Regions from separate parts of the Homo sapiens genome. Here region 2 is linked to region 1. Evidence: fine-mapped expression QTL. Tissue or cell type: nasal epithelium. Region 1 holds a variant in brackets; the other region holds the start of a gene. All regions are shown on one strand. Distances are between the middles of the regions.

Region 1 (5,721 bases):
ACCATGCCAGTGCTGGTCAGCTACAGTGAGCCTCCTGTTTCTGAAAGAACACAGAGATGAGTGTTGCAAGAATCAAACTTAAGACACTGGGAAAACATTTCTATCCATGTAAGCATAGGAAACTTTAAGTGTATTAATTATTAAGGAATACAAGTTATGTGCAGTGACTTGTTAAATAAGCCGCTGATACCAAGCAAGTGCAGAGACATTAAGGAGTCATGAAGTGAATGAGAAGAAGTCACTTTTATTACAACTACTAATTCCCCAGGAATTTGGAGATTTTTAAATACTCGTATATTCCAGCATCATTATTAACATGTCTATTTAGCACTGAAATTTTGGTCTGTACATGAACATCAATCATTTGGGCAATAGTTTCATTAAATTCATTTGCAGTCCTTTAACTCTGTTTTTTTTTTTTTTTTTTTTTTTTTTTTTTTTTTTTTTTTAGACAGAGTCTAGCTCTGTCACCCAGGCTGGACTGCAGTGGCGCCGTCTCGGCTCACTGCAACCTCCGCCTCCTGGGTTCATGCCATTCTCCTGCCTCAGCCTCCCGAGTAGCTGGGACTACAGGCGCCCGCCACCACGCCCGGCTAATTTTTTGTATTCTTTAGTAGAGACGGGGTTTCACTGTATTAGCAAGGATGGTCTCAATCTCCTGACCTCGTAATCCGCCCGCCTCGGTTTCCCAAAGTGCTGGGATTACAGGCGTGAGCCACCGCGCCCAGCCTGCAGTCCTTTAACTCTTAATGTTCAATATCTAATAGTGACTGAGAAAAACAGGGCTGTGTTTATTTGCTTATTTGTTCTTTCTGAAAAATCAAGACTTTTTCATCTATTTTTTATCACTTCATCTCAGGCTTTCCTTATATAGACTGAATTCTGATACTTAATTCTTAACATATTTTAAAATATTAATAGTAAAATGTATCTTTATATTTAAAGCCAAAAAAATGTATCCACATCTACTATGAACAAAGAAAACACCAGTGCTAGGCACTGGTGGGAGGGGAGGTGGATGATACATGAAAGCACAAGACAGAATTAGTACTCAAGGGCTTTGCAGTTCTGATGGGGAGAAAGATGTTCATTAACAATACTAGTTCATGGCAGAATGTGACCTGTGTTGCATACTGGAGGGGAAAAGTGCTACTTCTATAGAAGAGGGTGGAGACTTTAATGAAAGGAATTCCACTTCCAGTAATTTCTCTCAAAAGATCTATTGGACAAATGCAGAAAGTTACATGCACATAGATGATTCTTAGGTTAATATTTAGCCTATTTGTACTAAATAGCCAACAGCATGATTATGCCAACATGCCAATTCACATGGATACTGGATTTAGAAATGGTAGAAAATAAAATACTTTAAAGAAAAGTTGTTTCTGTTCATAAATGGTGTCTAGGACCAGCCTACAGATCTCCACCATCCTCGTTTCGTGACTATGATAGACATTACTAATCGATCATGTCATACTTTCCTTTGCGCTCTATGGCCTTAGAATCCTTCCTTCCTGAGAGTTACAACCCACTGAGATGAATGCATTTGCATATGCAGGGTATAGACAGTGGTTCTCCTACTATGCTACTTTGGTCTGTGAACCCCCCTGAAGGCTACTGGGGGAAAGGACGGGGAGGGAGAGTAGGTACAAGGCCAAGACTGCTCACTTTTGGACCACAGCTATGATATTAGAAGGGAGCTTAGTAGTCACCTTTGGATGGGATCTGGTAAAGATGCAGTGATGATATCTCAGGAGTTTTTCATTTGGGAATATTTACACAGTGTAAACTGTGTAATATGCATTTTTATATATTAAATATATTTTATACTTCAATACAAATTAAACAAACAAGCAAAATAATAGCTAACCTATCAGAGCCAAAACAAGATGGCGAGCTGAAACTTTATAGACCGTCAAATGTAGGCTCATATCTAGGCTCAACATTGTAACTTGCCGTGTGATTTGGGCAAGTCATTGGAGCTCTCTGTTTCATTTTCATTACCTGAAACAGGGATAAAGAATATCTAACTCATAGGATTGTTATGAGGAGTAAATGGCGTAATAAGGAACTTAGTATCATGTCTAATATATCATCGTAATATGTTAACAATGATAACTAACATTTATGTTCCCAGATCTGTTCTAGGGACTTAGTTTTCTCCAAAAAACCTTGTGTGGCAGGGCCTTTATTTTACAAAGAAGGAGACTGAAGCAGAGACTTTAATTACTCATCCAAGATCTCTCAGCTATTAGGTGGAAAAGCCAGAATTGGAATTCAAACAGGCTGCATATTAATCGCTGCATTCTCTTGTGTAATGAGGACCTGTTAAACA[A/G]CAGTTATTACTATTACAAGAATAAATCCTGGCAGAGATGTGGGAGGTTATAGGGAAGAATTGAGTGTGGGCTGAACTGCTGTTCACCAGGAGGCAAAGGGCAACTCTAGGGTTAGGCTTTGAAATTCTGTGCTAAATAAATGGCTGCTATTATTATTATGCAATCTCCATACCTAATTTGAGACAGAAAATGAAAGTACATAATACATGCAATATTGTTATTGTACTTTATAAATACAGAAAACAGCTTGTGGAAACTTAATGCCATGCTCCCCTTTGGTCCACTACAGCCTGTTTCTAAAATCTACCCCAGGGGAGCATTCTACCTCCGTAGGCTACATCCAAAATCAGTCTTGGTTTTGTTGTGACTATGGGTGATTTTTTTCCTCTGTATTTTCTACGTTTTCTATAATGAACACACTTAATCTTAGAGTGGAAAACTGACTTTGAAAATAAAACAAAGCAAAAACAAAAACCAATCTCGGTAAGTCAATAAGAACCACATGTCTTTTAAATGGAAAACATGCCTATTTCTCCTTTGTTTCTTAGAAGCAGCTTGCCAGATACACAGTCCACAGCTTTGAACCATTTACATAAACATACCCAAGCCAAGTGTTTCCACGCAACAGCCAAATTGCACCCATATTAGCAATTTAATGACTTTGAAAGTAATAAGTGGTAGAAACTGATATTCACTTTGCTGGAATTCACCTTAGATATTCCTTACAAACCACAATCCAGTGGCATTTGTTGTAGATTGTAGATGTAGATATTCAAGAAACTTTGAAAGAAAACACTATTCATCTTGAGATGGGGGGAAAAATGCTAAGTGGTAACAAAAGGTAGAAATCTTTCAGGTGAAATGTAATGTCCAGGAACTGAATGGTAGTGGATCATAGTAAATCATCCACCAGAGGGCACTGCCAGAATATACAAAGTTTTCTTGGAAAAGATTGGACACCCCCTAACTCTAAGCAAAGAGAACTAATATGGTTAGGTTAACAGAATTCCACTTTTATTATGCTTCCTTTTCCTTTATAAATCAGGTCAGTCTTTTCCTCCTGATGAAGGAATTCATGAACTGCATGCTACCCTTACTGTTATGACTTCTAAAACTGCTGCAACCATTTGATTGGAAAAGTATTTTACAATAAATGCTGCGTTCCATGTGCTAAGTACTGAAGTTATTACCATGACAACAAGACCACCTTCTTGCCTACAGTTCGGAGATTAATAAAGGGCTCCTGAGATAACCACAAGGCACATGAAATAACCCAGGAACTATAAATTGCAAAAGGTAAATGCTGTTTTGTTTTGCACTTAAAGTACCATTGCTGTTCAGTGAAGGGAATATTGCCCACAGATGTTTTGGAAAGCCATCTGAGGAAGGCACAGAAGGTTGTACAAATAGAATAGGCAGAAAGGAAAGCAGAACACAGCATTAGCAAAGTCATAGGAGTCAAAATTTCATTGCTAAGGAAAACTAGTGCTTTTCATTTCATATTTCTGGCTGTCCTACTGACTTGGAATGCTTCAAATGCACCAATTCACCTGCCTTAGATATGGACTGATACTTCAGTCCCATCTGCTGTAATAGGTGAGCTTTTCATATTTTCTGAAGCTATTATCCATAGTGTTTCCCCTCTAATTTCAAAAGCCTAGAGAGAAACAATATGGAAAAAACTCTTGTTTTGGACAGAGAAGGCTCTGAAGCAAGCCACCTCCTAGAGATGGAGAGCTTCATTTTGTCCTGCCTGAGCCAAGATAGGACACAGTAGGAGTTTGCTGCAAGAACACAGAACACATCAGGTTTTCATGTAGCAGTGCCCTAAGAAGGAAACTGGACAAGGATAACTTGAATTGAGGAAACCAGTCCAGCTGGAGCACCACCCTGTGGTTTCGCATGGACTAGGAATAGAAATTTGCTCTGAAGAAATGTATTTTTAAAAGTTAACCTTCACATGGTATTTGAAGTTTCATAGAACTTTTTTGGATTGGAACCAGATCTAGCATGCATGTTCTTAGGTATTAAAGCCTAATATTATTATATTACTCTTTGAAAAAAATGAATTCTTTCATCATAGTAATTTTCTTAAAATATAACACTGCTTTTTACTTATATTAAATTCTCTACTGTTTCTGATGTTATGCTACTTAGGAAAATGCCATTTTCTTGTTAAATTAATATGTGCAGACAAGTATTTACTTACCACACATGAACATGAGCCCCTTATAAGTCATCACTCCTAATATTTATGGTCTAAGAATGAGGTAGTTCGGGTGAGTCACATATTTACACTTAGCAGAGAGATTAAGAAAAAAATTCGCACCACAATTTCCCTTAAGTAATGGAAAAAATGTGACTTGTTACACATTTGTTTTCTGGGTCAGTGTTTTTCCAGCTTTTCCATAGAGTCTTAAGGTCATCCAAGGTTTCTTTAGGTTTTCCTAAAAGAAAGAACTGGGGAGTTGTGATGGGTGCTTGATTTTAAATGTGATAACAATTATCTGCGACTTTTAGAGAACACAGCTAACCATTGTGAAGATTACTGTTCTGGATAGTGAAAAATATGAACCAGCAGTATAGGCTTTGAATGTTTGAAATTGATGATCTTAAATTTCTTAAATAACAGGGCCCTAGACATGCACTTTGCTCACAAAAGAGATCTTTTACCCCAGTCTTTAGAAATTTGCTTAAAGTGGGAGAGTCTAGTATTTATAAATAAAAGGAAAGCAGTAAGATTCAGAAAAATACCATTGAGATTTATAAGGAACTAGAGAACCATAGTTCCTGGAAAATCCAGGAGTAATTGAATAGCTTTTATAATATAAAGAAAAAGAATATTCACGGTGCATTACTTTTGGCAGCCTATCATCTAAATATGGCACCCAGAATAAATGCATTGACTGAAGGGAAATTGTATGATTTGCATAAATTTTACCAATGGCTATAAATTATCCTCTCTGGTGATTTTTCAAGATAGATAGTGTTATGGGTTGAATTGTGTCCCCTCAAAGGACACTGAAGTCCTAATCTTAGTATCTGTGAATGTGACCTTATTTAAAAATAAGATCTTTGTTGATGATCAAGCTAAGATGATTTCATTGGAGTAAGCCCTAAGTGATTAAATATGACTATGTTCTTATGAAATGGGGAAATTTGGACACAGAGACAGACACACACAGAGAGATGATATGGAAACATAAGGAGAACACCATCTGCAAGCCAAGGACGGCCTGAGGTTACCAGAAGCTAGGACAGAGGCAGGGAACAGATCCTCCCTTACAGACTTTGGAAGGAACCAATCCTTCTGACGCCTTGATTTTGGAGTTCTAGCCTCCAGAAGCATGAGGCAGTAAATTTCTGTTGTTTAAGCCCCCCAGCT
Region 2 (5,721 bases), 70 kb after region 1:
TATCTTTCTAATATTGAGCTCTAAACTGTCTCCCTGCGGCTTCTACTCATTTGTCCTCATTTCTCTCTATGAAATAACTCAAAACAAGTCAACTTTTTCTTTCACTCAGAACCGTTCAAGGATCCTAGCATCTAGTAGGACCCTTTGCTCCATCCTAGGCTTCTTTTTTCTAGGAACATGAGGCCCAGCCTGTCCACTTGTTCTTCCCGGAATGTACACTCTCGTTTATGTTTTTTTGACCTTCACTCCCTTTTTCATCATGTGCATTGCCTCCTCAACATCTTAATCACTCTAAAAGCATGGTGTCCACTGCATTCCACTTTGAGATATGACCTGACAAACTGACCCGGTGTAAATTCCCTGAGATTTTCACTATCGTTAATCTGCCCACCATGGTTATACTGTAGCACAGCCAATCACATTAAGCCTCACATCTTTTACACGGACTGCAGACCCCCTCATTCCGAACATTTGCAATCAATGGCTTAAACCTAAATACAGCACAGCACTTTTACCCGTGTTAATCTTAATCACACCAGTCTGCATAATTCATTCCATTTTCAAGGCAGTAAAGATGTTTTAAACACAAATATGTTATCTAAATGTGTTAAATGTTCCTGCCAGATTTTTCCATCTATAAATTTTTACAAAGAGCTTCTTGAGAGAGAAATTAAAAAGTGAAAATCCGCCTGAAAAAGTATTTCTACAAAGACATTATCATGTAATTGTTTTCTTCCTTAGGTATTTAAGCTATCATCCTGTACCTAATAAGGTTTTGTATTTGCTGATTTTCAAAGTGCCAGAGCTTCCTCTGAAGGAAGGAAAAATCAACATTAACATTAGCTATTGTTTACTTCATCCTCAATAATGACAAAGTGTCTAAGTAATCATTATTAGCAAAAACCAGAAGCTTAAACATCTGCAATTTGTCCAGTCCCATATTTTTGGCTAAAGATAAAAAGATTTCCTTATTTGTCACTTTAGATGCATTCATTAAGAAAAGGCCCTATGTTTTTAAGGTTCAGGGCTTCATCACAGAAACATAATATGTGGAGATATATTAACTATTTAAATTATAAATGAGAAGAGGTGCTGGCAAGTATTTCTTTGAAACATTGAACACGCAAGTGTCTGCAGCTAGTATAAACAATAATTTTGTTTCATGCAAAACTGTTCATATACATGGATATAAAATGCAAGTAATTATCTGTCTGATTAATGTTTCATGAAAGTAGCCATCAAATGTGATTTTAAAAAAATGACAAGTCACATTTTTTAGTAACTCCCAAATGGCCCCAGAGGCATAGGAATTTCACATAAGAAAGAGAAATTGTGTGGGCTATTTTTTCCATTTATAACCTAATAAAGATACAGCTGGTTATTGTCAACCTAATTTTATGTTTAGAAAAATCACTTAAAGGAAGACACAAAACTGACAGGAGTTCTTCAACATTTTATTTCTCACATGAAAATGTGAAAAGTTACATTTGACAAGATAGAAAACAAAAATAAATATGTAAATTGTTGTAATAAGTAAACTGTTGCCAAGTTTCTGATGTTCCAAATAATTCATAATCTGAGAGCTTCCATACGTGGATCTAAGAAAATCCATTTGTCCTAATGTTCTGCTGAAATATTCTGAGTAGGGCTGAAATTTGCCATTCACTTTTTATGTGGATGGTGCTTATTAGGACAAAAACATCTCAGCTGCTATCACTCTAAAGGTAAAATCATACCTATTTAGTTTGAAGGTGTAGGTTTTTTTTTCCCTAAACATAAATTAAAGGAAAAAGGAAAAACGCTAGCTAAAATCCTGTATTATTAGTGATGCATTCATTGATTTATTCCACACTTTCACGCTATGCACATACAAATAAAAGTAGTTCCCTTCGAAGAGCTTACACTCTGTTAGACCTATGATATTTAGATAACTGTAACCTTATTTACTTACTTATTTAAAGAAAGTTTTCATTCCTAATAAATCATTCTCAAGGCTATATTTATCAAGGTTCATGCTTTCTACTTCCTCTTGGGGGTGGGGCAAGCAAGCGTCTTTATAAGGTAATCATGCTTGGAACTTCTGTTTGCATGCGCTCATCAAAATCAAGTGTAGCTATTTAGGGAAGCAAAGACCCTAGTCTAGGCCTGGAAATGAGATTCTCTTCTTTTTTGGCCTCCCCTTCTCTGGTTCTGAAATCAAGTTTTCCTGGTCTCATTACTAGGAATTCTTCCTCTTCTTATCACTACGCAGTACCCACAGCAAACCAGGATAATTGTATAAGCCCCTTGGCTATTTAATGTTGCTCTGAACTCAACAGGTATCTTGCAAGAATAAACAAATCCATTGTGGACTGCAAGTCACTTGCTTTCAGGCTAGGGAGAAAATGCAGCCTTAAGTCAAAAGGGCATTTTCCCTCTCAGCTAGGAGAGCCCTGTCAAGATAGGCTGCTGGTGTTCACATCTCCCTCGCAGCGAACCCCAAAGCCGCCCTGGGAGGAGAACCCGGTGACCAAGAGGACCGACTCAGAGGCCGAGCGCGCTCAGGGCTCGGAATGGGTCTGCAGGAAGTCGTCCCGAAAGAGCTGCCTGGACACGTGCGTGACACTCACCTGTTCACACTCTCCAGGCCAGGAGAGCTACGGTCCTCTGCAAGTTCGGAATGGGTCCCCCAAGATCGCGAAGCCCTCCCACACTGCGCAGCCCAGGCTTCAGGTTGCGTTTGCGAGTTGCTGGGCTGCGGTCGTGGGTGGGACTCGCCGCAGAAGCAAGTGCCAGTGGCCCGGCGGGGGTCTCCTCACTCGCGCTCGCTCCGACTAGCGGCGGAGGGACTGCGGCAGGACGCGAGCTGAGCCCGGCCAAGGCCGCTGCGCTCAGCGGCCAGGATGCTGCAGTGCGGCGCTTCGGCGCCCCCTACTGGGGGCAGGGGCAGGCTCCTCCCGCCGCGCTGCCTCCCAGGCTTGCGAGCTTGGGTCTTTAACGTGCTGCACCCAAGACGGGCTTCCCTTTTTCACTGGTTATTTCCAAGCCTCCAGGCTCCCACCGAAGGGCGGCTTTCCTCGGTCAAAACCTTGCCTAAGAAAGCATCACTACGTGGTGTTTTCTATTCCTTATTTCAAATGATCCTCGCAATATCTCTTTGAAGTATCTTTAATTATCTCCATGATACCCAAGAGGAAACTGAAGGAGAAGGTAACGCAAGGCTAGTAAATGGCTGGAATGAAATCCAGACTGGATTGGGAACTGAGAGATGCTAGGAAAAACAAACAAGGAATTCAATTGAAATTCTATTCATATATTTGAGAAAGTTCCAAAAGCTTCTCGTCCTCCTTACAGGATCAGCATTTATAGGATTTGCATTGGAGTCATACTCCATTATGCTCAGACCCTAACAAAGACAATTAATATGCGAGCTGTGCTGGACCTGCTTTCATATCCCTCATCTGATTTGATTTTTACACCCTCTCTTCATGTAAGAACTAGTATTATAATTACTAGCCTTTCACAGATGAGGAGGTGAGCTTCAGAGAGGCTAAATGATCTCCCAAAAACTGAAACATCTGAGCAAAGAAGCAGGAGGCACTTATGTTATTGTTTTTCCCTTATAAATCTGGGTATTCTTACCAAGATACCAAACGGCTTCCAGAAAACCAGTGTTATATAGAACAGACAGGGGCCTAGGGCAAACTGAACGATCTGTAGAATGTCATCAATGGGAAGGGAGGTAACCATGGAGGCAATTTCCAGAGTCCAGACTGACCTGGAAGGTCACTGCAGCCACGAGTGAATGGCTGAATGGAACAGCTAGATCTATGGCAAAAAGAGGAGTTGCCTAGCTGAGCAGGAGCTGCCCTGCTGGTTCTTTGAGAAAGCTCAAACATTGTATGGTTTATGAGTTTCCTGATCACTAATGTACCCCTCCCTCCACACCACATACATCTGGATTAGATGCCTCCCTCTGTATCTCACAGGACCCTGTGATCTTATCATTGTGTTTGTGTTGTACTCATTTCTGCCCCTTAGTCCTCTCCATTAATCTGTGAGCTCCCAGAAGCCAGGAATGTACCATGTGTGACTTCTGTATTCCCAGCATCATCCATACAGTGTGTATACCTACAGCCTGGCATATAGTAGGTAGTTAAAGAATACCTACTGAATTGAATGAATTAAGATAAAGAAGAAGTTGTGATAGGATATGTTTGAGCTTTTTTACATACTGGATTTAGGATAGACCATCCAGTAAGAAATTGAATGTATGGGGCTGCGACATTTAAGAAAGAGGCCTGGAAAAGAGAGAGACTTTGGTGTCTTAGCATGCAGAAGATCTTTGAAGTCTGGGATGGGATAATAATTACCCAGATTCATTATATAGAATCTTACAGAATTCCAATTACATGGAATCGTGTGGCATTAAGGTGTTCAGGTTTCACATGTTACCTTGTTTCCCCCATTAAATCTTATACTCAGGGCAAGATTTAATAAAAAAAAAAAAATCTGTGACCCTATATCTGTAAATATACTATTTACAGAGACTTGAGTTGGAATTCCCACTTTGCCACTCTTATTTAATAAGAGTTATTGACCAGCCTGGGCAACATGGGTAGAGACAGCGTCTCTACTAAAAATACAAAAAATTAGCCAGGCGTGGTGGCACGCATCTGTAATCCCAACACTTTGGGAGGCTGAGATGGGCGGATCACCTGAGGTCAGAAGTTCGAGACCAGCCTGGCCAACGTGGTGAAACCCCATCTCTACTAAAAATATAAAAATTAGCCAGGCGTTGTGGAAGGAGCCTGTAATCCCAGCTACTCCAGAGGCTGAGGCAAGAGAATCACTTGAACCCCAGAGGCGGTGGTTGTAACAAGCCAAGATCGTGCCATTGCACTCCAGCCTAGGTGACAAAAAGAGACTCTGTCTCAAGAAAAAAATAATAATAGTAAGTTTTCGAAGAGGGCCCAAGCCAGGTCCCATTTGTAGTAGTTCTTTTGGAACTTGCCTATGGAACCTGATTCTCTCCATTTTCCTGCTTAGCCCATATAACAACAGCATTCCTCCCTCAACTAGGGAGGCATTTGCATACACATCTGCAGTTCTTGATGTGCTGCTCTAAGATAGATGAAGTAGCTATCTTGGAGCCTGACTCCCACTGTGTTACATCTTCCGTATGTATCCTATATTCTGCGGGCTGCTTCCTTTGTCTCTAAAGCAGCAAAAAGAGGCACGCTCTCTTGTGCTGCCTGCCTCATGGATCAGTAAGAAGGGCAGAGGACACTTTGTACTTACGGTTCCATGACATATGTTTGCTGGGCAAGAATTCTCCTGGGGAAAGGGGAAGTCCTTGTCACATTCAAGTCTCTTAGCCTGGCCTTAGGCTTCAGCTAAAACCTCTAACACAAAACAAGTAGACGAAGTGTTGATATAACCACAAAGCATGTTAGAAACTGGAATTGTGTGTGTGTATGTCTGTGTAGCTGTTAATCATGTTTGTTATAAATAATTCAAACAGTAGAAAAATACAAAGATGTAGAAAATCATCCCCAGAATCACACTATCCAGAAATAATAACCATTGTTAACATAAGGGGACCATCATCATTCCAGATATTGTAGAAAACAGACATCCTGATGGACAGGTATGTGAAATGGCACAGATATGCTAAGTGTCATCATCCTGTAGATGCTATTTTTAATTTAAAAGTACACTTAATGAAGCAGAAGATAACAA

The links. PIP is the estimated chance that this variant, and not a neighbour inherited with it, causes the effect.
Region 2: it holds the start of RERG, and the variant in region 1 is fine-mapped to the expression of RERG in nasal epithelium (TOPMed, PIP 0.95). The same link has a PIP of 0.9 or more in prefrontal cortex.

The regions. Positions count from the first base shown.
Region 1 is chr12:15,148,439-15,154,159 of GRCh38, forward strand. The region is part of intron 2 of RERG (RAS like estrogen regulated growth inhibitor); the gene reads right to left. It overlaps RERG-AS1 (RERG antisense RNA 1), which reads left to right and starts at 3,485. Exons shown (of 3, transcript NR_046559.1): 1 at 3,485-3,632. The variant A/G (reference allele first, on the strand shown) is at 2,336.
Region 2 is chr12:15,218,586-15,224,306 of GRCh38, forward strand. It overlaps RERG (RAS like estrogen regulated growth inhibitor), which reads right to left and starts at 2,832. Exons shown (of 5, transcript NM_032918.3): 1 at 2,610-2,832. It overlaps LOC124902886, which reads left to right and starts at 2,083. Exons shown (of 1, transcript XM_047429948.1): 1 at 2,083-3,393. The coding sequence starts at 2,660. The coding sequence ends at 2,977.